Regions from separate parts of the Homo sapiens genome. Here all the other regions are linked to region 1. The links come from fine-mapping of genetic effects on gene expression. A gene starts in region 1. Each other region holds a variant in brackets. All regions are shown on one strand. Distances are between the middles of the regions. Region 1 holds the start of MAGEF1 (MAGE family member F1). Region 2 has its middle 75 kb from the start of MAGEF1. Region 3 has its middle 34 kb from the start of MAGEF1. Region 4 overlaps LINC01839 (long intergenic non-protein coding RNA 1839).

What was found. PIP is the estimated chance that this variant, and not a neighbour inherited with it, causes the effect. A credible set is the group of variants that fine-mapping cannot tell apart.
Region 2: its variant is the best candidate, but not a certain one, in a credible set for the expression of MAGEF1 in whole blood (TOPMed, PIP 0.87).
Region 3: its variant is the best candidate, but not a certain one, in a credible set for the expression of MAGEF1 in whole blood (INTERVAL, PIP 0.52).
Region 4: its variant is the best candidate, but not a certain one, in a credible set for the expression of MAGEF1 in skeletal muscle (FUSION, PIP 0.59).

Annotation. Positions count from the first base shown.
Region 1 is chr3:184,709,253-184,716,798 of GRCh38, reverse strand. It overlaps MAGEF1 (MAGE family member F1), which reads left to right and starts at 4,735. Exons shown (of 1, transcript NM_022149.5): 1 at 4,735-6,435. The coding sequence starts at 4,978. The coding sequence ends at 5,901. LOC107986163 (a long non-coding RNA gene) reads right to left here and starts at 4,556. Exons shown (of 5, transcript NR_160768.1): 1 at 4,381-4,556; 2 at 625-1,768. RefSeq lists an enhancer at 5,476-5,535.
Region 2 is chr3:184,633,489-184,641,034 of GRCh38, reverse strand. No RefSeq gene overlaps it. Among named protein-coding and RNA genes, the nearest start is that of MAGEF1, 75 kb to the left of the region's middle. The variant C/T (reference allele first, on the strand shown) is at 3,135.
Region 3 is chr3:184,674,005-184,681,550 of GRCh38, reverse strand. No RefSeq gene overlaps it. Among named protein-coding and RNA genes, the nearest start is that of MAGEF1, 34 kb to the left of the region's middle. RefSeq lists enhancers at 2,393-2,898, 2,899-3,403. The variant G/AAG (reference allele first, on the strand shown) is at 4,728.
Region 4 is chr3:184,494,587-184,502,132 of GRCh38, reverse strand. All of the region lies in intron 2 of LINC01839 (long intergenic non-protein coding RNA 1839), which reads right to left. It also overlaps the pseudogene TEDDM3P. Among named protein-coding and RNA genes, the nearest start is that of LINC01839, 22 kb to the right of the region's middle. The variant A/GGA (reference allele first, on the strand shown) is at 4,697.

The DNA.
Region 1 (7,546 bases):
CCAGCTTCAATTTGTCCCGGCCTAGGGATAGGGACAGAGCTCTTCCTCTGATCCCTGTTTGGAGCCAGATCAGCTGCACGGCTGTCAAGACTGTCAGGAGAAATAGGGAAGACACAAGCACCCACGCAGCCTGGAGACCATCAGATCTGGGGTGACATGTTACTGAGCACCTGTGTGAAGAAGGCATTCAAGAGTTTGGAGGACTCTATTGCCAAGTTTAGAAGGAATCCAACAAGATAACCCTGGCTCTGCACCAAAGTATTCACTGGCCTCAAATGGAGTGTCAGTACTTGACATTTCTTTATTTAATCTTTTTTGGCCAGACAGTTTTTTCAATGAGGAATGTGTAAGCTATTCCGAAATGTCTGTCTAAGAGGCCAGTCACCCTCATTACTGGGATTTTTCCACCATATCTCTTTTAGAAAAGGGTCTGTAACATTTTATATTTATTTCTTAATGGTGGAGCACTTTAAACGCATATTTACATGTATAATCTTGATTGAACTTCAAAATAACTCTGTAAGGATGGGCAAAGCAAGGGTTGTTGGGGCCTAAAGATGAGGAAAAGGTGGCTCAGAGAGGTTCAGCACCCTGTGCAAGGTCACAGAATGGGCGAGTACTGACCTGGTTCAGCACTTTGTCCCAGGAAACCTCCTCCGCGTCTCCACAGAGTGCTGGGCATTTCAGGACAGCTCAGCTGCAATTCTGCTTTTCCAGTGGAACATCCTTCTCTCTTCCACGTATGAAACTTTACGAAGCACTGTGGGCTTTTGAAGACTCTAGTCTAGGCTAAGAAGGATCCTCTCTCAAGAAGATTCCAACCCAATAGTCATTAAAGCATATGTTTCGTCATCTCCCAAACCAAAGGCATATATCTTTTGTCCCTTTTAAAAGTTTAGGTAAGGAATGTGTTAAAAGTCTGCCTGTTGCCGGAAATGGTGGCTCATGCCGGTAATCCCAGCACTTTGGGAGGCCGAGGCAGGCGGATCACGAGGTCAGGAGATCGTGACCATCCTGGCTAACACGGTGAAACCCCATCTCTACTAAAAAAAAAAATACAAAAAATTAGCTGCATGGTGGCAGACGCCTGTAGTCCCAGCTACTCGGGAGGCTGAGGCAGGAGAATGGCGTGAACGTGGGAGACGGAGCTTGCAGTGAGCCGAGATGCGCCACTGCACTCCAGCCTGGGCGACAGAGTGAGACTTCGTCTCAAAAAAAAAAAAAAAAAAAAAAAAAAATTCTGTGTGTCCGGTTACATGGTGGACATAACAAAAAAAAAAATGGGAAAAATTATTGTTTGCATTCCTTCCACTGTAACATGGTAACATCTAGCGATCGGCAAGTGGTAATGCAGAGTCCATTCACCTTTCTTACTCCTCGCCTCCTCCCATACCTAAAGGGCTGTTCATTTTTTAAAATCCTTTTTTATTTTTATAAATTTTGAGGTATGATTCATACACTATGAAATGCATACCTGGCTGGGCATGGTGGCTTACACCTGTAATCCCAGCATTTTGGGAGGCTGAGGCAGGCAGATCACTTGAGGTCAGGAGTTTGAGACCAGCTTGGCCAACATGGTGAAACCCCGTCTCTGTTAAAAATACAAAAATCAGCCAGGTGTGGTGGCAGGTGCCTGTAATCCCAGCTACTTGGAAGGCTGAGGCAAGAGAAGCACTTGAACCTGGAGGCAAGGGTTGCAGTGGCAGGGGTTGCAGTGAGCTGAGATTGTGCCATTGCACCACTCCAGCCTGGGTAACAGAGTGAGACCCTGTCGCAAAGAAAAGAAAAGAAAAGAAAAGAAATGCATAGCTATTAAGCGTACAGTTTCACAAGTTTTGACAAATGTATACCTACATCCAAATCAAGACACAGAACGTTGCCATCACCACTGAAAGTTCCTGGATACCCCTTTCCAGTCAACACCACCCCAGGCCTCCACTGTCCTAATTTCTATCACCATAGATTAGCTTATCCTGCCTCGAACATCAGATAAATGGAATCATATTATACGTATAATCTTTTGTATCTTTCATCTGTCACTCAACATATCTGCCAGACTCATTCACATTGTGTCAGTAGTTTGTTCCTTCTTATGAGTAGTATCGTCATTTATTCAGTTCTTAAAATCCAGCCCTATTACCACAGATTTGTCCCTCAAAATTCTTTTCATTTAATATATCTTCTGCATGCTCCTTTCCGTGCATGTATCTCCTGCATATCTCCCTGGCAATCCTTGTAGTGAGGAAAATATGTAAGTGGACTATTTTATCTCTAGCACTGTCCTTTTAGGTATGGGTGGCTCTCTCTACCTTCAGGAAAAACAGATAACCAGGCAGTCTTGCTTCAGAGTTTACAGATCTGGGTTTTCATTTCTTGTCTAGCACTTAACAGATGGGTGGTTCAGGGCAGGTGATTTAACCTCTCTGTGACTGTTTTCCCATTTGTAAATGTGGATAATAATACCTTCTTAATAGGGATTTGTGAGGACAAAATTATATTGTACATAGAATGTTTGGCACAATGAAAACTAATAATAGCCTCAAGCTAGGCTATAATAAACATCCTCTCCTGCTTCATTCACATACTTCCAGGTTTGTAAGTCATATGATACAAGTGGGTATAAATTTTCAAAAGTTTTTAAAAGGAAGATTTCATATTTAGATTTAGAAAAGTCTATCAGATATTTACTTAAAATAAGTAACTGTTATTTCCTAGGGAAAAAAGTAAAGCCTTCTGTCATTTATTCATTGGCAATTATATATCGAGTATTGACTAAGAGAAGCTCTTCAAAAGAGTTAAAAACATAGCCCTAGCTTTTAGGATGTTTGGTTTGGGGAGGGTAATAAGATAAGCACAACAAATTATAATACAAAATATAGTAAATGATAATAATAATAATTAACATCTATGAATGTAGTGGTTAAGAGCACAGTCTCTGGAGTCATACTATATGGGTTCACATCCCAGCTGTGTGATGTTGGGCAAGTTACTTAACCTCCTTGTGTGTAACCTCACCTGGAAAATGGGGCTAATACCACTTACCTAGCAGGGCTACAGTATCAGAAAAAAGTGGCCCAGGGTGTTTGAGCATCCTGTACAAGGTCACAGAATGGGTGAGTACTGACCCGGTTCAGTGCTATGTCCCAGGACACCTCCTCCGCATCTCCACAGAGTGCTAGGCATTCCAGGACAGTTCATCTTGCAATTCTAATATTGTATATTGCATATAAAAATATGCATTAATTAACAGCTAACATGTATTGAATATCAATATGTGCCAAGCACTGTGTTAAATGCTTATGTGCATTACTTCACATAATCTCCACAATGCTGTTACTACTATTATACTCATTTTACTGATAAGGTAACAGAAGGGCAGAAGTTTAGGTAACTTGCCCAAGATTACATAGCTAGTAAGTAGCAAACTGTGTCACAGAAAAGATACAATCATCTATAAAATGGGGATGATGGTATTAGTACCTACATTAGTGAGAATCTGATGAATTAATATTTGAAAAGTGATTAGAACGGAGCCTGGCACCTAATAAAGCCTATATATGTGGATGTTAACAATTGCTAAGGTGATTCAGAGATGACAGTAAATAACTTCTATGCGTGGTGACTAAGGAAGGCTTGGGAAGGTGATGTTTAAACTGGGCCCTGAATAGTGGACAGGATTTGGAGAAATGGAGGTGATAGAGAGGGCATTTCTGACAGGGAAGGAAGGGAGGGAGGGAGGGAAGAAGGAAGGAAGGAAGGAAGGAAAGAAGGAAGGAAGGAAGGAAGGAAAGAAGGAAGGAAGGAAGGCAGGAAGGGAAGGAGGGAAGGGAGGGAGGAAGGAAGGAAGGAGGGAAGGAAAGAAGGAAGGAAGGAGCAAGAAGCAGAAGAAAGCTCAGAGTGTGTAAAAAGAGAAAAAGAAAAGAAATACATGGGAGTAGTCAAATTTGACTTGCGCAAAAAAAAAAAAAAAAAAGAACAAACTTCCCCTTTCTTCCAACCAGTCCCTATTCCTGCTGTACTTCTCAGTATTTTCCTCTTATCCCCATGGAATCTGCTGTCCTTACTCCCTCATCATAATGATCCATTGAATATTTATTGAGTTCCTCTCCGTGTCAGGCACTGCTCTAGGCACCGAGGATACAACCCAGTAAATAGGCCGGGTCCCAGTTCCTAGTTTGCACTATAATAATCCTCCAAACTGGATTCTAGCTTTTAGCCGGCCGAACTCCAATCTATCTTCCACAATACCGCCAGAACCGAAGACACAGATCTGGTCTGGACACTCACTTGCTTAAATCCCGCTGCAGTATTTTCTCTTTACGTCCAGAATAAATTTCAGTCTCCCTAGCATCCTTTACTAATTGGTTCGCACAGTCTTACCTCGCAGCCTTCACCGTGCACTCTGCACAAGAGCCCCGGTAAAGCACTGAAAATCCCAGATACACACACTCACAAATAGGCACTTGCAGAAAGAACGTGGGGGGCACTCCATCCCTATTTCATCTCTTGTACACCGAAACATTCCCCAGTCTGCATGCCTTGGATGGGAGAGTCCTGGTTACATTCCCCCGCCCCCGACTTTTCAAGCCTAAAATCCGTCACAGGGCGCACCCCCGTCCCCACCCTCCAGGGCATTTCCACTTATAGCAGCCTGGGCACACCCCCAACCCAGAAGGGACCGGAAAAGGAGGGGCTGCGCGCGGCACTAGGGTCGCCGTCCTGGCTGAGGTGGCCGGAAGTGGCCCCTCGCGCGGGCGCGGACTGAGGCTGCGCGCCGCAGGTTCCGGCTGCTGGCGGCGTTGCGGCCGCAGGTTTGACTCCCGTGCGGTGCGGCCCAGCAGCCACAAAGCTCCCGCTGCCATTGCTCCTTGTACTCCCGCCGTCACTGCCGCTGTCCAACCCCTCCCCCGGGGCTTGCGCGGCGGCTCCCACACCCCTCGGCCCGTGTACGCGCTCTGCACCTGCCTGCCCGAAAACATGTTGCAGACACCAGAGAGCAGGGGGCTCCCGGTCCCGCAGGCCGAGGGGGAGAAGGATGGCGGCCATGATGGTGAGACCCGGGCCCCGACCGCCTCGCAGGAGCGCCCCAAGGAGGAGCTTGGCGCCGGGAGGGAGGAGGGGGCTGCGGAGCCCGCCCTCACCCGGAAAGGCGCGAGGGCCTTGGCGGCCAAAGCCTTGGCAAGGCGCAGGGCCTACCGCCGGCTGAATCGGACGGTGGCGGAGTTGGTGCAGTTCCTCCTGGTGAAAGACAAGAAGAAGAGTCCCATCACACGCTCGGAGATGGTGAAATACGTTATTGGAGACTTGAAGATTCTGTTCCCGGACATCATCGCAAGGGCCGCAGAGCATCTGCGGTATGTCTTTGGTTTTGAGCTGAAACAGTTTGACCGCAAGCACCACACTTACATCCTGATCAACAAACTAAAACCTCTGGAGGAGGAGGAGGAGGAGGATCTGGGAGGAGATGGCCCCAGATTGGGTCTGTTAATGATGATCCTGGGCCTTATCTATATGAGAGGTAATAGCGCCAGGGAGGCCCAGGTCTGGGAGATGCTGCGTCGGTTGGGGGTGCAACCCTCAAAGTATCATTTCCTCTTTGGGTATCCGAAGAGGCTTATTATGGAAGATTTTGTGCAGCAGCGATATCTCAGTTACAGGCGGGTGCCTCACACCAATCCACCAGAATATGAATTCTCTTGGGGTCCCCGAAGCAACCTGGAAATCAGCAAGATGGAAGTCCTGGGGTTCGTGGCCAAACTGCATAAGAAGGAACCGCAGCACTGGCCAGTGCAGTACCGTGAGGCCCTAGCAGACGAGGCCGACAGGGCCAGAGCCAAGGCCAGAGCTGAAGCCAGTATGAGGGCCAGGGCCAGTGCTAGGGCCGGCATCCACCTCTGGTGAGGGTTGGTGAAAAGTTGGCCAGTGGGTCCCCGTGAGGACGAACTACTGTCCTGAGTCATAAGTAATATGGGTGGGGCGAGGGTCTTATTTCTGTAGAAATCGTGTGACTTTAAGGATTTAGATTTTGTATCTTATGTTTTGTAACATTTAATAATTACTGTTAAAATGCTGTTTGTAAATGAGATTGGTCTACTTTTTCCTGTAGGATTTTATTGTAGAGTTTTGCTGGTTTTGTAAAATGGATGGAAGAACTTTGTATTTATACTGTGATTTTGAACAGATTATGCAACATTGGAAGGAAGGCTGTACTTTGATGGTTTGAAGGAACTCAGCAGTATGATGATCTGGTTCCAGGGGAAAAAAATAGCTGGTTGGTGTCTAGCCCCCCAACACTTTTGTCTGTTGTGTATAAAAGAAGAAAGACTGGCATGTACCTTCATTTGCTTAGCTATTTGAGTATCTAGAGAAAAATTAAAATGCAATGAGTTAGCAGTATACCCTGGCACACTTAATAAATTAAACATTTGTGGAGCATCTTGTTTTCTGTGATGCACTGTGTGGGCACTTGGGGATAGAATACTAAACAAGATAAAGGTCCTACTTTTTTTCAGAATTGAAGAGTAAGTAAATAAACAAGAAATTAGCAGTGCAATGAGTTGAAGTCTACAAAGGGATACTTAACCCAGCTGGGATGATTGAGTGAGGTTTGCTGTAATCCCAGCACTTTGGGAGGCCGAGGCGGACTGATCACCGGAGTCAGGAGTTCAAGACCAGCCTGGCCAACATGGTGAAACCCTGTTTCTACTAAAATTACAAAAATTAACCAGGCGTGGTGGCACACACCTGTAATCCCAGCTACTTGGGAGGCCAAGGCACAAGAATCTCTTGAATCTAGGAGACGGAGGTTGCAGTGAGCCGAGATCATACCACTGCACTCCAGCTTGGGAGACAGAGCAAGACCCCGTCTCAGAAAAAAATAAGAAATAAAAATAATGATTTCAGATCACAGCTACTCCTCAGTAATGTGAGCAGACTTGATACATGGCAGATCTGGGAAATACTCTACCTTTGCCAGTGCTGTCTTTCCAGACCAGATTGTTAACAGTGCACAAAGATGTTGACTGTCAACTTTTTGGCCCTTTCTGTCTCCTTTTCAACCTCTACAGGGTTCCCTCCTCTACCAAAGCCCTCAGAGATCAAATAATGTAACACCTCTGGAATATTATGTAGTGTGGATGAAGGGTACCTAAATCTACTACTACCAAGAAGTTCCACTTCAAGATTTCTCCTCTGGCACCAGGAAGCCCAGTTCCCCCTTCCATGTTTCTGCCTGCTGCTTTCCACCTGCCACCTCCCATTTACAGGAGACTTGTGAGGTATCCCTCCCCTTCATGTTATCCGTGGAGAGTCATCTGTAAGGAGCTCTGGCTTCTTCAATGCCCACCACCTTCTGCGTGAGGGTAAATCCTGTAGAAAGGGTACTTAGAATAATAGGGAATTTAGAGAAGTGATTCCCAAACCAGAGAGTGGGTGAGGGTCGGGGGCAGGGTGGGCGGATGGTGAAACTTCCCCTGCAACTGCCATAAACAGAAGAGCTGCTTTCTTTTCTCTTATCAATTTTTTCTTCCAGTTGTGTCCAAGTAAC
Region 2 (7,546 bases), 76 kb after region 1:
TGTAGTCCCAGCTAGTCGAGAGGCTGAGGCAGGAGAATCGCTTGAACCTGGGTGGCGGAGGTTGCAGTGAGCCGAGATCATGCCACTGCACTCCAGCCTGGGTGACAGAGCAAGACTCAGTCTCAAAAAAAAAAAAAAAAAAAAAAAAAAAAGAAGTCTTATAGAAAACACAGACTCTTAGCAACCAACTTTAAGATGGGTGAAAACAAATGCCAAATGGAAGGACCAAGAATCTAGCCAGCAAAGTAATTGACGTGGAGAAGGGAAGATCAGAAAGAAGGTGAGGCTCCCTTGATTGGGCCTTGAAGGCTGAGCAAGATTTTGATAGCAGGTGAAGGGAATCAGGTATTGCAGACGGGGTTCCAGATGCCATCAGGCCTCAGCCCATGCCTTAATATTCTTGAGGCTTTTATTGGCTTAATTTTCCATGTGCAAAATGAAGGGTAGAAAAGCTCCACATGTCCCAGGGAGATGGGGTAGGGGTGGAGGAGCCCAGCCTGCTGGGCCCAAAGTAGATGGTGTGGCTTGGCCCAGAGCAGCCCACACTTTCACTAACCCAAGCTGCGGTCAAGGCCTCTTTGTCCTGTGTCCATGGCCCATTTCTCAGAATACACTGGGGCCACAATACACAGAAGCCACAATCCACCCATGGGAATTCTGCCCAGTGATCTCTGGAGGAGAGAAGCAAATATTGGGGCTGTGGATACTCAAGGGTTAAATGGAGTCTTTCAGACTCAAAGAACAATGAAGGTCAAGAAGAGAGTGATCAGACGAGCTTGCTGGAGGTGGCACCTGGCCAGGCCGGACAGTCAGCATTCTTCCACCTCTCTCTGCCACCCAGTCCATGACTCTTCCTCTCCCACTCAAAACCAGACCTCCAGGTTCCCACCATCCAGCCACACACCCCTCACCCAACCTGGCTGGGATCACCCATCCACCCAGAGGTCACTCAACGTCTTTTGAGGACTTGGGCGCCTGGCTCAGGGTCTTCTTCTGTCTCCCACCTCCTGCTGTCAGTCTGGGGGACCTGAATGTCCACATGGACTTCCCAACACCCTCACCCTTGGCTCTCCTATCTCCCCTTCCCCAACGACCTTCTCTCCATTTCTGCCACCCACATATCACCTGAAACGTCTCCTGTGAAATCTTAAACTCCAGCACCCCCATCTTGGGCCACAACTTTTTCCTTCCTTTCCATAAAACCTGGTCTCCACTCGCAGAGATTCTCCAATTCTCCCGTTCTGTCTCACTCGTTCGAGCACCGGTGCTGCAGTGCCGGCTTTGGACAAGGCCTTCCGCCAGCGCATCTGCTCCTTCCTGGCTCTACTTTCTCCTCTCTTGACCTGCCTGTGATTGGCCACATCATTCATTTTCCCGACACCCTTGATTCCCACACCCCCTCACCCTGCCTTTCCCAGCCCTGGAGGACTCCAGTCATCTGCTTTGTCCATTGCAATTCCCAGGCTACTAGAAGGCATAGGAAAACCACTCAACCGTGCAAACTAGTGCCACTCCAGATTTATGGTCCCTGACTTCAGCCTGGCCCTTCAGCTCCTGGGCTGCTGGTGATCAGCTCCTGTTCTGAAACTTACCACCCTTTCAGGCTTCCGGCCTGTCCCCTCCGTCATGTGTAATTGACAGAGAAAATAGAGATTCTCAGAACTCCCTCAACTACCCTCTCCTCCTCTTCTTTGCTAACCACAGACCCAACCCCACCTCTTCCCAAGACCTAGTTTTCACTCACAGACCACCCAGCCCTGGTGCAACTTGCTCCTCCCTTAGCTGCTGCAGCACCACCCTCTCTTCTGGACCTTCTCTTATTTTCCATCATCCCTTCCCTCTCTCTCCCCTGCTTCTCCTCTGTCCACTGCCTCTATGTTGTGGTTCCTAGAGCTCCAATTCTTGTCTTGCCCTGCTCCTGCACCCCTGATATTCTCATCTAAACCCATGGCTTCTTGCTCTAGTAATTCTGATATCTGTGGCTCATGTCCAAGCTCCACATCCTGGTGAACTTGGATGTTCACCTGTGTATCCCTAGGCACCACCAAAGCAGCATGTCCCCAACTAGTCCTCTTAGCTCTTGCCTCAAACCTCCACCTCCGCAGTCTCTGGATGTTGAGTTAGAGCATCACCTTCCACCCAGCCGGCCAGCCAGAGACCTGGGAGTTGCCTCAGCTCCGTCCTGACCCCTCCCAACACCCCACACAACATCCTATGTATTCTGTCTCAGACATGGTTCCCAAATGCACCCTCTCTCTTCCGCCACACTGCTATGTTTCTTTCCTGCTGCATCATCTTTTGCAATAACCTCTAGTTGCTCCTTGCTTCTGACTATCTCTCACTTTTGTATTTAAGCCAAATTTCCTTCGATGGCCCACAGAGGCCTTCACATTCCAACACATCCAACCTCTCTCTGCTCACCTTCCCTGCCTCTCTCCCTGCCAGCCCCTAATCCAGCTGCCTCCTGGACAAGCTAGAACTGCTCTTAACCCCATGATCATCCATCTGCTGAACCCTCTGGATGGGATAACCTCTCTCCCGCTTCCTTGACTGGGAAACTATTCTTCCTCCAAGATCCACCTTCCCAGACACCCCAGCCCCTCAGGCAGAATTAACTGTGCTCTTCATTCTGTTTCTCTGTACTCAGTTTATCCAATCTACAGCTGTTGGATATTCACTGGTTCCAGTCTGGGGCCTTCATGAATAATGCCTGCCACGAACATTCTTGTACACGATTCACCTCTGGAGTACACATGTCTGAATTGACTGCTTAGATGCTGACCGGCTGCTTCTGAAGAGATATTTGAGAACTCCTGGTCCAGATCTTCACCAGCCCTTCGTTTTATCAGACTTTTACATTTTTGCTAATCTGGAGGGTATGTAGTAGAATCTTCTTGGGATTTTAATTTGCATTTCTTTGATTCCTGATAAGGTCACACACCTCATATATTTATAGCCATTTGGATTTTTCCATATTTATGCATTTGATCCAGTTTTTCCATTGAGTTGCCAATCTTCATACTCATTTGTGGGAGTTCTTTACACATTCTGGAGCTGAGCCCTTTGTCAGTTGCATGTGTTGCAAAACCTTTTCCTGCTCTGTGGCTTCCCTTTTACTCTCTTCATGTTGTCTT[C/T]TGAAGAACACAGCTTCTTCATTTTAATGCACCCACATTTGTCAATCTTTTTCTTTATGGTTAGTGTTATTTTTGTGTGTTGTTTAAGAAATCTTTCCCTACCCTGAGGTCACGGAGATTTTTTTTACATTGTCTTATAAAGGCTTTCTTGTTTTGCTTTTCAGATTTAGGTCCTTGCTCCACCTGCAACCCCACGGCACTTGGTACTTATTTCTGTAGCACTGCTAACTCCATCTGTTTATATGTCTGCCTCCTCCACTAAACAAAGACCTCCTTTAGGGCAAACTACAAATCTGTGTTTTAAATCTTTGTATTCAGAGGTCCTAACACAGTGCCCGGCACACAGTAGGCACTTTATCAATGCCCTTGAGTGCCTGGATTGCAGAACCGAGGTACAGCTGCTTCCAAACAGGAAGGCCCTCTCTTCTCAGGAGTCCCACTTTTGCTGACTCTTGCCCTCCCATCAAAAAGCACATGTGTATACTGAGTTCATGTGTGCTGAATGTATGGCACAAGTGTGTACTGAGTGCCTACTGTGTGTGGGTGCTGGGCACAGTTTTAGTGATGCAGAGCCAAAGATGGCGAAGTCTCAGCCTGTACAGTACTCATCACCTGGCACCTGCTTTCCTGACGCAGTTCAGAAACCCCCACACTGATCTGGAAAGCAGAGAGTCCTGGGTGCAAATCCCAGCTCTGCCTCCTGTCATCTGCACCACTCTGGGCAAGTCAATTCAGTATACTGGGTTTCAGCTTTCTACTTTGTCAAAAGGGAAAACAACAGATAACTTTGTGGGTTGTGGTGAGGACAGAGTGGAAGAATAAACATGAAATGCCAAGCGGGTGCTGGAGGCATGGTAAATGTCTAAAGATTGTTGAGTTGAGTAAATGATGGAATGGATGAGTCAGTGAATGAACTGGTTGGGAGGGGGGATGGGCAAGGAGAGCTAGAATTGGGAGGGGCAGTAGGCAGGAGGCAGGGGCTGCTGGGTTCTCCTGCAGGCCTTCCTTGTCATAGTAACTGCTGTCAGCAAATGTTTCCCAGACAGGAATCCCCTTCAGGGCTCCCTTCCCCAACCCACTGCATTTGTTGACTCAAAACCTCCCCACTGCCAATTTAGCCTGCAGTAAGGAAGCGGGGTGGGGAGGGGGAGAGAGGTGTAGGAGGGAGTAAAGCTGTGCAGAAAGGGGTCTTTGTCTGAGCACTGTGTGGCATTTCAGATTTCGGTGGAGGGGTTTTTGTTGCTTTTTTTTTTTTAACCTCCTAAAGAGTTGAGTGGGCTGCACTTGCAATAAGAGGTATCAGAATGAGACAGCAGGGAGGACTTCCAGTGGGCTCTCTGTATTGGACGGTGGAACAATGGAATGGACTGCCAAGGGCCTGGGGAGTCTCTCTGAGGCTTAGACACAGATGCAGGTGCGCTGTTCCCATGGAGGAACTCTGAGGGTCTCAGCCCTGTGCTCCCTCCACAGCTCCTCTCCTTGCTGAGGTGAGAGGTTCCATGTCCAGGAAGCTGTTTTTTTTTGTGTTTTTTTGTTTGTTTGTTTTTTGTTTTAAGGAACAGGGTCTCACTATGTTATCCAAGCTAGTCGTGAATTCCCGGGCTCAAGCGATCAGCCTCCTGAGCAGCTGGGACTACAGGCATGTGCCACGACACCCAGCTCCCAAGAAGCTGTTCTGAACCCAGTAGCCACTGGGCCATCCTGCTGCAAAGCTTAACTGGGGCCTCTTGCCACGTGCTGTTCTCTGGTTCCAGCTCCCTCTCCTGGGGCTCCTGTTGGGGCAGCCCTGGATCCTGGAGGGTTCACAGCTGGACCCAGGCTTTCCCCTGACCCCGCAGAGCCCTTCCACGCAGCCCTACTTCAGGCCTGCCCCATCAGCCTGCCCACCACCCCTGACTCACGTCAAGGAGAGGAGCCGACAGGCCCAGCCTCCCGCCACCCAACCCCAGGCCCTGAGCGTCAGGCCTGTGCCTTCTCCTCCCCGACACCCTCCCTCCACCTTTAGGTGGCTTCGTGCCTCCTCCACGCATGTGCGTGCCTGTGTTTATGGGCTTCTCTCGGGCTGCCCTGTGCCCTCATGTCTGTCTGTGTCTGTGTTTCTGTCCCTGCCTCTCTCTCCCCACGCTGCCTCACTCCTTTCTGTCCTCTCTGTCTGCCTTCCTTTTTGTCTTCTGGTCTGTGTGTCTCTCTCGGACCCTGTCTTTCTTTCCATCAGTCTGTTTCTTTGTGCGTGTCTCTAAGTCACTCTGTCTCTCAGTCTGTCTCTGAATCTGTCTGTCTCTCTTTCAGCGTATGTGTCTCTGTGCCCCCCTCTCCTCTTCTCTGTCTCTGTCCCTGTTGCCGTGTCTCTCTCTGTCCCTCTCACTCAGCGTCCCTGCCATGTCTCTCATGCTCTGGCTCTCCCTCTGAGCCTCTTTCTTCTGGGCACTCAGCAGGCCAGTGTCAGAGTCAGATCCTGGCCAGCCGCCAGACCACTTGCCCCGGTGGCCCGCACCTCTGGCATCACCTCTGGGAGCAGGTTTCCTCACAGCTGCCAGGCGAGAGCAGGCCTTGTGGCCCCCAGTCCTGCCCTGAGAGTGGAGTCCCAGGGGCCTACAACCTGCCTTCACTCAGCGCCTGCTAAGGGCTCCTTTCTTCCCGTCCCCTCCTCCTCCCTCTTCCCGACTTAAATTCAATGCCCTGCAGCCCCAGTCCCCAAAGTCGCTGAGTCCTGGCTGTGAGCCCAGTACCACTCAGAGCTCCACAGGGGCATGGCTGCAGGAACTCCACCCTGACACCCTCAGGAGCTCCCAGGCCAGCTGGGGTGGCCCCACACCCGCACGTAGAAAACAATGTGGACAGCACAGGGCAAAAGAGTCAGGGCCCAGTGTGGCCACAGACTGAAAATCCCAAAGGAAGGGAGACACGAGTCAACATCAGGGAGGTTAGATTCAAGCTGGACAGGACTGTGTCAAATGGAGATGGCCAGAGAGGACATACGCATGACAGGACCCTGCCTGGCACAGGCGTCGAGGATGGACTCATTAAGGGACCCTGAGCTGAAGGGTAGTGGTTTCAGGGCTGGAATTAAAGTTTGTACACACCCTTGAGAGTAAAAAGATTAAAAACGATTCTCATGGAGGTATGTGTGGGGAGGCAGAAGTTTTCAGAAGTGAAGATGATATCTAAATTGGATTCCAAATCCACTCAAGGTGAAGGAGAGGGAAAAGCTATTTCAGGCTAAAGAGCCAGCAGAGAGGAAGGGAAGGGCTCAGAGAGAGTGGTGGGAGGGACATGGGACAGAACGGGGGCCCTGGTGCGGCACCCCAGGGCTCTAGACTCTATCTGCAGCTGCCAGGGGAGCGTTTTGAGAAGGAGAGTGACACTATACGCTTTTATTTATTTTGGCTTTTTAATAAGTTACTGGCAGCTGTCTGGAGAAGGGATGGGCAGGAAGGGAGACTGAGGGTGGGAAGAGCAGCTAGCAGCTCCTGCAATAGTCCTGGCAAGAGCCGAAGAGGGGCCTGCTGGGGCTGGGTTCATGGGAGTGGGGACAAGAGGACACCTTCAGAGCACCTTCTGAGGCAGACCAGAAAGGGTGGGGCAAGGAAGAAGTGGGGGTTGTCTGAAGCTTCCGACTTCGGGACACCAGGGAGAAGGAGAGGTTTGGAGAAAAAGACCAAGCACCTTGGGGTTGAGATGTCCACGGGACTTCCTGGGGTGGAACTCCCTCCTTTCCACTCAGGGCAGCTGGACATAAGATATGGAGGCCTACAAGTGGCCCGGGTGGCAGAGAGAGGTCTAGGAGTTGGTGGTTCCTGAGGCCAAACAGAGGCTGAGCTTGGGGCCGGGCGAGGTGGCTCACACCTGTAATCCCAGCACTTTGGGAGGCCGAGGCGGGCGGATCACCTGAGGTCAGGAGTTTGAGACCAGTCTGGCCAACATGGTGAAAACCCGTCTCTACTAAAAATACAAAAATTAGCCAGGGGTGGTGGCGGGAGCCTGTAATCCCAGCTACTCAGGAGGCTGAGACCAGAGAATTGCTTGAACCCAGGAGGCGGAGCTTGCAGTGAGCCGAGATGGCGCCGCTGCACTCCAGCCTGGGCGACAGAGCAAGACTCTGTCTCAAAAAAAAAAAGAAGCTGAGCTTGGGTCTGATCTATTATGGCTGGTTCCAGCTCCAAAGCAAGAAAGGGGTACACAGTCACTCCAGAAAGCCCTGAGTCCACTTCCCCAGTGTCTTCTCACCCACAGCCCCACCTTCCCACACCCTACACACACACACACACACACACATATGCACACACGTGTGCACACAGAGAACCGGATCAGCAATGGCACCCAGTGTTTCAGGCCAACCAACAAGCATTTTCAAATGCAAATTCCCTCCTTCCACCCCCACTCGTTCCTCACACAACTGCTCTCTGAGCAGC
Region 3 (7,546 bases), 35 kb after region 1:
TTTTGTATTTTTAGTAGAGATGGGGTTTCACCATGTTGGCCAGGCTGGCCTCAAACTCCTGACCTCAGGTGATCCACCCACCTTGGCCTCCCAAAGTGCTGTGATTACAGGTGTGAGCCACCGCGCCCAGCCTACATTACTTTTTTCATGCTGAATCTTCATTATCTGGGTGTATATCTTACAGCACATCTCAATTGGGATTGGCCACAAGTGCTCCATAGTCATGGGTGGTTGGTGGCTGCCATATTGGACTGTCTAAAGGGACGGGTGACCTGGAGCATCTTGAGCAGATAATAAGAGCAGGTGGTGGGGGCTGAGGACTTTCAGGCAGTAGGGAATAACCGCGGGTTCTTGAGTGAGAGAGTATCCTGGCACAGCGCTCTCACGCTGTGGAGTTTGGAGGCTGCCAAGGAGCTAGAACAAGAAGTTCAAGGACAATGAGAGATCGAAGGAGGAAACCCCAGCAGATGACCAGCCCCACAAGTAGGACTGGGAGCCTTGGCCCTTGCCCTCACCTGAGACTGGAGGAGACCCCAGACGGGGACTGTAAGTATGAATTTACCTCCATGGGGAGGTAGGCAGGTCACCTTGGCAGGCCCTGGTTGGGAGAAGGCTGTTGAGGACCCAGGGGCTGTTTTACGGTTCCTTTGGCTCCCCATTCACGGAAGCAGACTCACACCAGATCCCTCCTGCCTGCTCCCCCCACCACTCCTGCAGCCCATAAAGGGTAATGAAGCTGAAGTTAAAACAGTCACATGAAACCCACTCATTTGAAAGGGCACCTGCTTTAAAGGCCAAATTTCCTGAGCCCAGGTTTATACATTAAGCTACAGAAAGACCTAATTAATTCAGACCCCACTCACTCTGAATTTGGGATAAATTCTGCCTCGGGCTGGTCTGAAGTCTTTCCTTTTGCACTATCTATGAAGAAATGGTTTGCTAAGCAAATAAATAGTGCAGGCCAGATTACAGAGACAGGTCTGGCTTACTTAACTGTTTTTAAGAACTTTAAAAATCACTTTAGCAGCCTCATTCCCAGAAAGTTAATGAGATCATTACAGCTGGTCCTTATCTATTTATTTCAGCATTTCAGTTTTCCAAGCACCTTTATACCCATTAGTTAATGTGACCTGGGGTGGGGAATCCTGTTATTTCTCAGCTTCCAGCAACAGACTTAGTGCCTGGCACACAGTTGGTACTTAATGTTTGCTAAATGAAGGAAGTAGGCCTGGTAAACAATACTAGTCCCATCTTACAGATGAGAAAAAATGAGGCTCAGAGAAGTTAGTTATAATATATTCTGTCCTGGCCACAATGGCTTTGGGGTGTCCCTAGAGCTAGACCAGCCACATAGCTAGTTAGTGATGATATCAGAGCTTGAACCAATGCTGGTTGCGGGTTTCTCTCCACTCTATTACATGTTACCAGGGCTGCTGCTTGACAGCAGTTTATTATCTGAGTTTGAGGAACAGTCTGTTCTTAGGGACCACAACAAAAAAGTCCCATTTTTTTTTTTTTTTTTTTTTTTTTTTGAGACGGAGTCTCGCTCTGTCGCCCAGGCTGGAGTGCAGTGGCGCGATCATCTCGGCTCACTGCAAGCTCTGTCTCCCGGATTCACGTCATTCTCCTGCCTCAGCCTCCCGAGTAGCTGGGACTACAGGGGCCCGCCACCACGCCCGGCTAATTTTTTGTATTTTTTAGTAGAGATGGGGTTTCACTGTGTTAGCCAGGATGGTCTCGATCTCCTGACCTTGTGATCCGCCTTCCAGAGTGCTGGGATTACAGGTGTGAGCCACTGCGCCCGGCCCATTTTTCTTTTGTAAATTGCATTTTCCCCAGGGAAAGGAATCACTGCGTTCTGGAATGTGTGCCTCCGCACTAATCAGCAACAATCCCCTTCTGTGCAGCACCTGACTCTGACACAGGCCTCCTGACACCCGTGGCCCTTGGGATGTCAGGGCCAGTACAGGTCACTTTCCTCCCTGGGGTGGAAGAAATGGGGGCTGCTGCAAATCTATCTGGTCCTGGCTCCTCCGGGGAGTGCTTCCCGAGGCACAGGCCTCCCAGGAAGGATGGTCTTTGTCCTCTGGGTATACCCTTCCCCCACATCAGGGGAGCAGCCTCTGTGGGCTGGGTCTTTCTTGCCACTTATGGGGGGATAGGAAGAGGCCGGTCTCTGTCTCTCTGCCCTTTGTTCTGGAGGCTTGGCTGACTTGGAACACTGCGCAGGGAAAATTCCCTGACCGTGAGATCTGCAGGCTGCAGGGTCCCTGGGGAAGGCTGGCCAGGGGCTCTTTCGAGCTGCAGCTGGAAAGAGGGGTTGGGTTTCAGCGAGCCGGGCTCGGGGACGGCAGCCCGCCTCCCTGGCGGTAAGGGAGCTGGCCCGGCGAGCCAGCTGTGCCTGACAGCTTCCTGTCGAGAGCTGAGGGCCCACATGACCGCTCCCCACTTTGTGGATTAGGGGGCGAAAGGCCCAAGAGGGAGGGAGAGCAGGAGGGGCACTCAGGTGCTCTCTGGCCCAGCTGGGGATGGGGTGAGAAGCAGAGCACCAAAACATTTTTTGTGAAATGAATTCTGCGGGCTCCCGGTCACACGGTCCAGCAAGCTGGCTCGCCCTGGAGAGGGGGTGTGGGGCTGGGGATGCGGTGAGCCTTGGCACTGACTGGGGCCATGGACTGTTTGTTTAAAGTCCCCCTCCCTGCAACCTGACTACACACATCCCCACAGTGTCTGCCAGAGAGGCAATGTGGTAGCCACAGCGCTATGTGTTGAAGAGGAGATGGGATCTGGCCGTGACGCGGGAAAGAACCCAGGCCTGGATTAAAGGGCAGTGCACGCTCTGACCACCCTGGTCTCTCCCGAACTGGACCCCCTGAGCCAAGGGCAGCTGAGGCCAGAGAACTGGGCCTCCCACTGAAGCCGTCCTGACCAGGGATGCCAGGCCTGGCCTAGAGATGCCCCGTTCTGTCCAACAAGCGTTTATTGAGCACCTACTGTATATGGAAGTGTGCACAGAGATAAGTCAAACACAGCCCTGTCTTAAGGAGATACGCTTGAGATGATAAGCTCTGAGTATGACAGGGTGCAGTGCAGGCACACAGAGAAGCTTGGCACCCCAGGGTGCAGCCTTGGGGTTCACAGAGGGCTTCCTGGAGTCAATGATGCCTCAGAGGGAGGAGGAGGCCAGCAGGGCGGTGAAGTCCCTAAGGACCCAGTTTAGCAGTGGGTTTCTGGGGACAGTTGCAGATCCCCACCTCATAGGCAGACCTGTGCACACCTGCCCTGCCATCACCACGTAAGAGTGGCCTAGAACCCCAAAGGTCTCCGGTGAGGAACAGCAAACTGGGCACAGGCCTTGCCGGGGTTTCTGGGTCAGCTGAGCTCACTTCCCCTGTCCCTGGTCCACACACCTTGAGAATGATGCAATAGATGTCAGGGAGAAGGAGGGGGTGCCGTGCAGCCCACCAGGTGTGGGCCTTCCCCTTCACTGACCTCTAAACAAGACCCCACAGCCCTGGGGCAAAAGCCCCGGGCACCGACACTTCACTAATATCTGAGCTTTTGTGCTGTTGAACACCAAGGAGCCTTGGCCTCCTCCCTGGAGGGATTTCTGGTGCAGCTATCGGCCCTGTAGGTGATTTTTGTTCCAGCTCTATCTCTATTGTTTACATAGCTCAGAGTTCCATGGAGTGAGAGAAACATGCTTTCCTTTCCACTAAAGGTGCTATGAAAAACAGCCGGTCTGTGGAGGGGCAGGAGGGAAGGCCGTGTGTGCTGTTCGGCCCCTCATTCTGACAGGCTCTTCTGGTCTCCAGAGTCCTCTCTGTCCAGGATACCTGTTTGTCACGCTCTCCCTGGAGCTGGCTCAGCTGGAGGCTCTGGGACTCGGAAGGAGCCCCCATTCTAGAACTCTCACTGGGAGTTCTGGCTCTACGAATGGAGTTGTCCCTGCATGGAGTCCTACAGGCCTGGATGCCACCAAAAGAGGGGGCAGTGGAATGCTACTCCCCCTCTAATCTGGCCACCAACTGCCACCTTATCTGCAGGCCCTGACAAGGGTGACAGAAGCTGATGCCTGGATGTCCAGCAGGCAGGACGATGGGAGAGCGGAGGGGGCAGATGGTAGAGAAGGAGGCAAAAAGCAGCCCCACTCACCCTGGGGAGGGACCGAAATCTCCTGCTTTAAAGCCAGCAGGTTCCGCCTCTGGGTATTCTCTCCAGCACCATTTTTCCTTCTTCACTACAGAGATTTTATTTCTCTCTTGCTTGGTTTGAGAACTGTCCTGATGCAGCGGGCAGATGTCTGAGTACTTGAGGGCTCCGGTGATGACTCCTCAGGGTCTCCGCCTGAAGACTTGGTTCAAAGCTCCCAGCCCTCTAGCAGACCTCACCCCTGCCTCTTACCGTTTCCTCTTTCCTTCCTCCTGCAACTTCCCCTTTCTCTGCCTGCATGCAGCCCCTGTGTCTCCAGCACATTCTCCTTTGGGTCTCCGCGTCTTTGGCACTCACGTTCTGCATGTTACTTATCCTGTCCATCGGCCAACAAGCAATGGGTCATGTCACTTTACTTCCCTGGTTTTCATGTCTATGAAATGGTAAAAGTCATGGATGGTGGTGGGTTGTCTGGTGGTCTTGAGAGTCCCTGCAAGACCTTCTACCCTAAGATTTGAAGTATTTACTTATTGATGCCCTGATGCCTGAGCGGGCATTATGGAAAAAAAAAAAAA[G/AAG]AGGCTGCCCAATACCAGCCTGACCAACATGGAGAAAACCCGTGTCTACTAAAAATGCAAAATTAGCTGGGCATGGTGGCACATGCCTGTAATCCCAGCTACTCAGGAGGCTGAGGCAGGAGAATCGCTTGAACCCGGGAGGTGGAGGTTGCAGTGAGCTGAGATTGCACCACTGCACTTCAGCCCGGGCAACAAGAGCGAAACTCTGTCTCAAAAAAAAAAAAAAAAAAAGAGGCTGCCCAATATGTGCACTGGGACTCTCTACCCTTCTTCATTCGAGGCCAGCCTAGGGCTGAGGAGTGATCCCTTTACAGATTCAAGCTGCCACAGGTCAAATGATAGAATGGCGTGCAGCAGGATGGGGAAGCCCAGTGGGAAACGGGGCAGCAGGATGGGCTGGAACAAGCCTTCAGCCCTACCTCTCTCCTTTGACTACTCCAAATATTCTTGACTTCTGAAAAATTCCCAAATGTTTCCGAGCCAAGAATCCCCCAAAGGAGTGGCTCAGTGTCTGGGGTTACAGAGACTTTGTTACTGCAGCAAAGCATACTACAACCCATTTACTGGTTTAATTTAATTATTTATGATAACACTTCAGAGTAAAAACTACACTTGTCAAAATAAAGGGGACTTTGTGCTGCAGTGACCCAGATTTTATTGTTGCATTACCTAATGCACCGAAACCTGGTAATCGGCACCAGATCTCCCTGCCACTTGGGCAAATCAGCACTGAATGAGGAAGGCTGAAATGGATTACTGCTTCCTGGGGGAATTATTTTCAACGATTCAAACAAAATGGCATTTTGATTTTCTTCCTCCCACTCTAGTTGCATCCCCTTTCCCCCAAATAACCTGGTTTCTACACATATATTTGACTGTTTGCCGTTACCTCTGTGCCCTTAGATCACCTCCCTTTCTTTGCACATACAGTTTCTTCTGCCTAGGATGCCTTCTCCACCACTCACTAGACAAATCATTCCTAACCATGTCGGCACAACAGATTCCCCCATGCATTTGAGAAGAAATTCAGATTTGGCCAGGCACGGTGGCTCACGCCTGTAATCCCAGTATTTTGGGAGGCTGAGGTGAGTGGATTACCTGAGGTCAGGAGTTCAAGACCAGCCTGGCCAACATGGGGAAACCCCGTCTCTACTGAAAATACAAAAATTAGCTGGGCATGATGGTGCATGCCTGTAATCCCAGCTACTTGGGAGGCTGAGACAGGAGAATCGCTTGAACCCAGGGGTCAGAGGTTGCAGTGAGCTGAGATTGTACCACTGCACTCCAGCCTGGGTGACAGAGTGAGACTCTGTCTCAAAAAATAAATAAATAAATAAAAGAAACCCCGCCTCTACTGAAAATACAAAAATTAGCTGGGCATGCTGTCGCGCGCCTGTAATCCCAGCTACTCAGGAGACTGAGGCAGAAGAATTGCTTGAACCCAGGAGGCGGAAGTTGCAGTGAGCTGAGATTGCACCACTGCACTCCAGCCTGGGCGACAGAGCAAAACTCTATCTAAAAAAAAAAAAAAAAAAGAGAGAGATAGAAATTCAGATTCCCGGGAGCCACACTGAAGAACTCCCACCGAGCTTAAATCTTGCCTCTCTATGAAGCCACCCCTGGGGTCCATGCCCTGTCCAGCACTTTCTCCTCCGTGGCTCACCAGCCCTCTGCCCTTTCCCCGACAGCTTCTACTCCTTGACCATAAGTCCTCTGAGGGCAGGGTCTTTCTCTTTTACCTCTGTATCCTCAGCAAGCATAGTGTCTGCCCACGTGGAAGTTCAATAAAAGGTGGCCGGTTGCATGTTGGGCAGTATTTTGAGGAATTAAGACTTTGCTGGAGTTATTCATACTAAGGTCAGAGCACCAACTTCTGTCCTCACCCAGACCCTGAGCCCCTCTCCTTCCCACCTGGAACCTGCAGGTCCACATTCTTCCTTGGGCAGAAATGGCCTTTTTTTTTTTTGGTTGAAAGACCTTTGAGGGTGAGAAATTCCCGGCTACACTGTGTGATGGGGCTTAGGGAGATGTGGATTCACAGCAGGGTACAATGGGCATGTAATCTGGCCTCACCATTCACAGCAAGCCTGTCAGGACCAGCTTCAGATGCTTACTCCTTATTAATGGCCCTCCCCTGAGTCCCAAGGCTAACAGGTTCTCTCAATACCCTACTGCCTCCCTCAGCTCCTGACACTCCATTATTCACAGCAGTGACCGTGGTGATGACAGCCTAGGTGACCCATGGCAAAATCTAGTGATAAGTAAGGAAGGGAAATTCACCTGTGGAAGGCCCCATCCACCCATCCATCCATCCACCCATCCATCCATCCACCCATCCATCCATCCACCCATCCATCCATCCACCCATCCATCCATCCATCCATCCACCCACCCATCCATCCACCCACCCACCCATCCATCCATCCATCCATCCACATAGTCATTTATTGCTAAGTCAGGAGGACACACACACACACACACACACACACACACACACACACACGACAAAGGAGACCTGGTCTCTGCAATTAAGGTGCTTACAATCTAGTTGGGGAGACAGATAGGAGTTACAATTCCAGTGCCCCAATCTCCATCCTCAACAACTCCATCTGTAGTAATTTCCCAGCGTTGGTGCTTTACGTTCACAAAGCACTTCCCGTCTGAGCTGGGGGTCCTCCCAAGGAGAGGAGGAGCACTCCCCAGTTTTGCCATCTCTAAAACCAAGTTGGAAAAGGTGGGCTCTGGGGTCCCTTCCTGCTCCAGTCCAGGTGGGTTTCTTTAGGAAGAACTCCTGGTACAGGAACTTCTTGGGACCCACA
Region 4 (7,546 bases), 210 kb after region 1:
CATTTTTCTCCTGAGGTGTTTATTTATTTTTTATTTTTTATTATTTTTTAAATGGAGTCTTGCTCTGTCACCTAGGCTGTAGTGCAGTGGCATGATCTCAGCTCACTGCAACTTCTGCCTCCTGGGTTCAAGCAATTCTCCTGCCTCAGCCTCCCAAGTAGCTGAGATAATAGGCACGCACCACCATGCCTGGCTAATTTTTGTATTTTTAGTAGAGACAAGATTTGACCATGTTGGCCATGCTAGTCTCGAATACCTGACCTAGCGGTCTGCCCTCCTTGGCCTCCCAAAGTGCTGGTGTTACAGGTGTGAGCCACGGCACCTGGCCATATTTTTAACTTTTTTCTTTGTAAGTGCTTTCTATGTTGTAAGGAGACTAACACTTTCTTACATATGGGGCACAATTTTATTTTGTTTTTCTTTTGAAAATTTTAAACTGTAATTTTAATCAGTACATGTTTAATTTTTATTAATAAATAACTTACAATTTTTAATATAATTAAATATGTTACTGTTTTTCTTTATGACTCTTGCTTTGGTATCATTCAAAGAAATACTTTAAAAACTTCAGGATCATAGAAATTTAGCAAGGACTGCTAGTAATAACAATAGGAGGGCCGGGCGCAGTGGCTCACGCCTGTAATCCCAACACTTTGGGAGGCCGAGGTGGGGGGATCAAGAGGTCAGGAGGTCGAGACCATCCTGGCTAACACGGTGAAACCCCGTCTCTACTAAAAATACAAAAATTAGCTGGGCACGGTGGCGGGCGTCTGTAGTCCCAGCTACTCAGGAGGCTGAGGCAGGAGAATGGTGTGAACCCAAGAAGCGGAGCTTGCAGTGAGCCAAGATCGTGCCACTGCACTCCAGCCTGGGTGACAGAGCCAGACTCCATCTCAAAAAAAAAAAAAAAAAGCTAAATTATTCATAATCACCATCATTATTCACTATGTATCAGACACTTTATATATAATCCCATTTAATTCTCATAACAAATCTATGAAGTAATTATTATTCCCATTCTACACATCAGGAAGCTGAGACTCAAGAAGACCAAGTAAATTCCCCACAGTCATGATTACGGGGTTGGAAGTGAATGTCAGTAGTTTTGCTGTGCATAAACTTCAGGCTTTGTTGGATGAGCAGACCCGGGTCCACGTCCTGGCTCTGCTGTGCCAGCTGGCAGATGGACCACTTTGTGCATGTCTCTGCACCGCTCTGGACCTTCATTTCACTTGTAAAATTTCACCTAATAACACCTCCCTCATAGAGTTGTTAAATGAGAGAAAAGTATGTACTGTGCCAAGCACTGAGAGAAAAGTCAGCCTGAGAGTCAGCCCTACTCCTCTTTGCTGGAGCTCCTTCACTCTCTTTGTTTCCTCTCTGCAGGGGTAGGGCGCTGTGGCAGAGGGGCTGGTGAAAGAAACGCTGAATCAGCATCTGTGAAACTGACATCTGCAGTGAGGTGCACAGATTGAAATGCTGGGCCTAGCCGATTTAAGTAAGGAGCAGAGCAAGGTGGCTGCAGCGGTCCCACCCTGGAGGACCCTCTTAAAGGCGTCCCACCCTGGGGTGTGGCTCAGGTTTCTGCAACAAGACCTATTCCTTTCTGTGTGTGGGAGGCAGGGGTGGGGCTCGTCAGCATGATCTCTCCGTGGTTCAGAGGCAGCCACTCCTGCCTGTGAGGATGCCGGTCATGTGTGTGTGAGGTTGCTGCTCATCTACCAGCTCTCGCCCCGTTGGCCCCAACACACACACTAAAGCCATGGGCACCCTCGAGGGACACCTGCTGCCAGCAATGTTCTTCCTTCTCTACTCACTCTACTATATGGTGCTGGTGTCTCTGGCCCTGCTACAGGAACAGAGGCTCCTCAAACTCCCTCTGCCCTCCAGGGAGAAGTGAGGACACAGGTGGTGGTAGCTGGTGCCACTAGAAGGTGTGGTGAAGGTGGTCATCACCCTGGCTGGCATCTTACCCAAGTTATTCTACCCGTCTGGAGTAAATCGGCTGATGGTGGTAGACTGGGAGGATCCGCGGTGGCCATTCGTGTTCAAGGACAGCTGGCAGCACATCACCATGTACGAGTTCTTTATGCTCACTGGCGTGGTGGACATTGTAAGCCAGTCGTGTCAGGAATGGTAGAATATGAAGCTAGAGCAAGCAGTCAAGGCCTTGGGCTCCTATGTGCTGGCACTACTGATGGCAGCCCACATTGAGAACAAGGGCACCCTGGAGATCCGTGTGCGTGAGCTCTTCAGCGTGCCCCCCTTCCTGGTCTCCCTGGTGCTCACCATCAAGGTCTGGGTCCCTGACCAGCCCCAGCTCTGGGTGCTCAAGACCTGGGTGGGGCTGGGGCTCAGCAACTGGATGCTGCAGCTGTGTGTGCTGATGTTTGCGCCTCCCTCCGGACAGCCCTGCAGGTGGAGAACCCCATGGACCTTGCCTTCCTCACTCGCTTCTTCTCCTGGCACCTGGGCTTGGGGGCTGCCGTGCTGGCTGCTGTCTATGGCCTCTGCAGCCTCTGGCACCGTCACTGCTCCTCCTGGACAGCGTTACCAGGGGCCAGGTACTAGCCGTGCCTCACCAATTCCAGTGGTGAAGAGCTTGAGAAGCTCAGGGCAGAGGCTGTGCTGCTGGATGGAGGCGTCTAGGTACAGAAACTGTCTTTGTTCTATGCCTTTTGTAATGAGAGTTTCAAGGGTGCCCACAGCACGCATAGCATGGAAATGCCTTAGAATTCACAGGCTAGCTTCTATCTCGGGAGCCATCTTTCTCGTTCCCAAATAAACCTGCCAGCCCCTGGGGTAACTTCTCATCCATCATTCTCTTCTCTCCAGGTCTGTCTCTTTTCTCTCTCATTATTCTGGCCAAGCACATACATGAAATGAGAACAGGAGTGCTGCTTTTTTCTGGCAGTTTTCAGGATCCAAGAGGAGGAAATGAATTGAGGAAGTAGACAGAGAGGAAAGAGCGCCCGTAGACACCATATTTCTTAGATGGGGCAGGACTACGGTATGCACGGGTATGCCTGCAAATGAAGTCTCTCAATGTGTGAAAGACAGGGGGTCCGTTTTTCCATAATGGTGAAGTCTTCTGTTTTCTCAATTTCTCTGTTTTTTATTCACTCTCAGTATGGCAGTATGAGGAATTTTCATGTTTGTTTTTTGTTTGTTTTCGAGATGGAGTCTCACTCTGTCACCCAGGCTGGAGTGCAGTGACTTGGTCTCGGCTCACTGCAACCTCCGTCTCCTAGGTTCAAGCAATTCTCCTGCCTCAGCCTCCTGAGTAGCTGGGACTACAGGCACCCACCACCATGCCCAGCTAATTTTTGCATTTTTAGTAGAGACGGGGTTTCAACACGTTGGCCAGGCTGGTCTCAAACTCCTGACCTCAGGCGATCCTCCCACCTCAGCCTGCCAAAGTGCTGGGATTACAGGCATGAGCCACCGCACCCGGCCATTTTTTGTGTTTTAAACCTAAACTAAATGAGGCCACTTCTGCCTTATGAGAGAGGAAGGAATGAGAAGCTTGGGCAGTTGCAGGGGGGTGTGGTTCCAATCAATTTAGCAGGGGATCAAGAAGAGGGAGAAAGGAGGCCACGGAGGAATTCCAAAGCTGCTTGTCAGAAATGAAGGTGATTTAAATATGATTTTAAATTGTTTGTGTTTTTCTGTGATACAAAACAACTCCATTGTTCCAACTCATTCAGTAAAGTCTATTACATGTGTACACGTCTCATGTGAGTGATTCTGAGGGAAGCCAGAGAAAGAGCCCATATCTCAATTGACAGGAAAAGAACACGGAGGAGGGGGAAAGAATTGCCATGAAATGGGGTGCAAGTGATCTCAGTGCTTCTGAAGACACAGGAACTCAGAGCTGAGAGAGAATCTGAGGGTGTCAGTCCCCTGGAATGTGCAGGAATATTTTCAGATCTTTGGTCTTCTCTCAGAATGGGATGCTAATAAATTCACATATTTGGTGAAATATATGAAAGCAAATTATATAAAATTACATATCTCTGGGTACAGTTAGGAAGCCATTGCTTCTAATAGTATGAGTCAGCTTAAGTGAGATGGACACACCCAGCATTTAGAAATCTGAAGAGGCAAAAAGAAAAGAGATGCTGGCCATAGATGTGGAGAAAGAACCATAGAGAAAAGTCCCCATGATGAAGCTGCTGCAATTACAACACCCCGTGTGCAGCCTGGAATGCTCTCCTCAGACCATGAGAAGCTTCAAGAAGCACAGAGAGGTTTGCAGGATGGCAGACAAGACAGACTGCACACTGTTATTTGAAAATATCATTGGATGCACTCTAAAGAATCGGTGTAGACCAGGCGCAGTGGCTCACACCTATAATCCCAGCACTTTGGGAGGCAGAGGTGGGCAGATCTCTTGAGGTCAGGAGTTTGAGACCAGCCTGGACAATATGGCAAAACCCTGTCTCTAAAAACATACAAAAAAAAAAATAGCCAGGTGTGGTGGCACAGACCTGTGGTCCCAGCTACTCAGGAGGCTGAGGTGGGAGGATCACTTGAGCTTGGGAGGTAGAGGCTGCAGTGAGTCGTAATCATGCCAGTACACTCCAGCCTGGGTGAAAGAGTGAGACCCTGACTCAAAAATAAATAAATAAATAAATAAATAAATAAATAAATAAATAAATGAGAGAGAGAGAGAGAGGAAGGAAAGAAGGGGGGG[A/GGA]GGGAGGGAGGGAGGAAGAAAGAAAAGAAAAGAAGGGACAAGACAATTGGGTGCACTCTAAAGAAGCAGTACACAAGAGCACAGAAAACAGGCCGTGGAGACTCTGGGACAAGGGGTTGATATTAGAGAAGGGGAGAAGGGAAAGGGATAAAGAAGGAGCCAAAAATCTGGCCACTCACACTGGCAGGGCTTGGATGGGAGGGAAGACTCTGGATCTTAGAGGAAAACAAATGTGTCTCTCAAGCAGCTGGAACCAGGCCAGCCCCAACTTTCCTCCCCAGAGGAGGAAGAACCAACCCAGGGAGAGGCCAGCACCTGTCTTTCTCTCCCCACCCCAAAAAGCCCTGAAGCAGAGCCAGATATACCGGAACTAATTAAGTTTAAGCTTCAAGGCCCTTCACCTTACTCATCCTGTCCAAGGCCCTGGGAGAGGCTTTAGCAAGGTGTTCGCATGATCCGCATATCACTGAGAATTTGCAAATGTACTATTTTTGTGTATTCTTTTTTCCTAAAGAGGGTCCTTTAAATTGTGTAAGCATTCGGCCTCACAAAGCCTGGCTCTGCCCTCACCCTGGAGGCTTACCACAGATATACTTCAGGATGCTTTATGATAAACACATCCCTTCACCTGTTCATGGAACATTCTTTGTTAGAGAATCCTTCCTTCTTCAACTTGAAAACAAGATACTTATAACGTTAATGACCTCAAACACTGGCTGAAAATCAACGGCTATAGTATAATCCCTCTGACAAAAAATGTGAATAAGTGTTATATGATCCTAGGTCTGAATTGATAAAGAGGAATTAGAGTTGCAGAAGACTAGAGGGAAAGGTGGGAGTGAGGTAAAGAGGTTAGTCCTGCATACACTCACTTGTGCTGTTGTGGGGAGAATTTTTGTCTGCACATCTGGCCCTTGCCCAGTGTATTAGGGTTTTTCAGAGAAACAAAACCAACAGGATGTGTAGATAGATGAATGGATGAGTAGATAGACAACAGGGATTTTAAGGGGCAGGCTCATGCAATTGCTGGTAGTTAATAGGGATCTTAAGGAACCATCTCATGCGATTGTTGGGGCTGGCAAGTCCAAAATCTGCAGGGCAGGCCAGCGGATGGGAGAACAGTGAAGGGTGATGTTGCAGTCTTGAGTCTGAAGGCAGTCTGGAGGCAGAATCCCTTCTTCCTTAGGAGACCTTATCTTTTCTCTAAGGCCTTCAACTGACTGCATGAGACCCATGCACATTATAGAGGGTAATAGGCTTACTCAAAGTCTACTGATTTAAACATTAATTATAACCCAAAAATACCTTTATGGCAACATCTAGACTGATGTTTCACCAAACAATTGGGTGCCAGAGCCTAGACAAGTTGACACATAAAATTATCCTTCATATCCTGCATATTGGAGTATGACCACTCCGGCATGATTTCCATCAATTGTATTTGTCGTGATTTTTGGAGCCCTTCCATAATAATAATAATAATTCATTTTTACTTATTTATTTATTTTTGAGATGGAGTCTCACTCCATCACCCAGGCTGGAGTGCAGTGGCAAGATCTGGGCTCACCACAACCTCTGCTTCCCGCGTTCAAGCGATTCTCCTGCCTCAGCCTCCTGAGTAGCTGGAATTATAGGCACCCACCACCACACCTGGCTAATTTTTGTATTTTTAGTAGAGATGGGGTTTCACCATGTTGGCCAGGCTGGTCTCAAACTCCTGACCTCAGGTGATCCACCCACGTCAGCCTCCCAAAGTGCTGGGATTACATGTGTGAACCACCGTGCCCGGCCAATAACTTCACTTTAAAGGAACTTAAGGCCAGGCATGGTGGCTCATGCTTGTAATTCCAGCACTATGGGAGGCAGAGGCTTGTAGATCAAGAGGTCAGGAGTTCAAGATCAGCCTGGCCAAGAAGGTAAAATCCCATCTCTACTAAAAATACAAAAAAAAAAAAAAAAAAAAGGCCCAGTGTGGTGGCAGGTGCCTGTAATCCCAGCTACTCGGGAGGCTGAGGCAGAACCCTGGAGGCGGAGGTTGCAGTAAGCCGAGATTGCTGCACTCCAGCCTGGGCAACAGAGCGAGACTCTGTCTCAAAAAAAAAAAAAAAAAAAGGGAATTTAATCACTATAAGTTCTAACTGCAGTTCTGACTGTATAATACTATATGGACCTCTTCCCTTACATATTCTCCCTAGTGCGAGAGAGAGTGCTGGGTGTGCAGGTAAGTGACACTTACTTACTTATTTATTTATTTTTGAGATGGAGTTTCACTCATGTTGCCCAGGCTGGAGTGCAATGGTGCGATCTTGGCTCACCGTAACCTCTGCCTCCTGGGTTCAAGCGATTCTTCTGCCTCAGCCTCCTGAGTAGCTGGGATTACAGGCATGCACCACCATGCCTGGCTAATTTTATATTTTTAGTAGAAATGGGGTTTCTCCATATTGGCCAGACTGGTCCCGACGTCTTGACCTCAGGTGATCTGCCAGCCTCAGCCTCCCAGCATGCTGTAATTACAGGCGTGAGCCACCACGCCCGGCCAGTGACACTTATTTTTAAAGATTAAAAAATAATATTTAGAGGCCAACAGCCTCAACCAGGGCATACATGAAGCCTTTCCCTTTTTTCCACTATAAAGCTTTCCCACTCCTCTACCTGCTTTGGATTCTCTGTCAAAACACAAGTGATGGTGGCCAACTCCCTTGCTATAGCAAGCTCTGAATCAATCGTCTTTGCTTGTTCTCATTTGGTTGATCTTCATTTATTTCCAGCAATTCAATTCTTCCCTTTATTCATCTAAGTAGGTATTCAATATTTATTAAGCATCTATTATATGCCAGACTCCATGCTAGG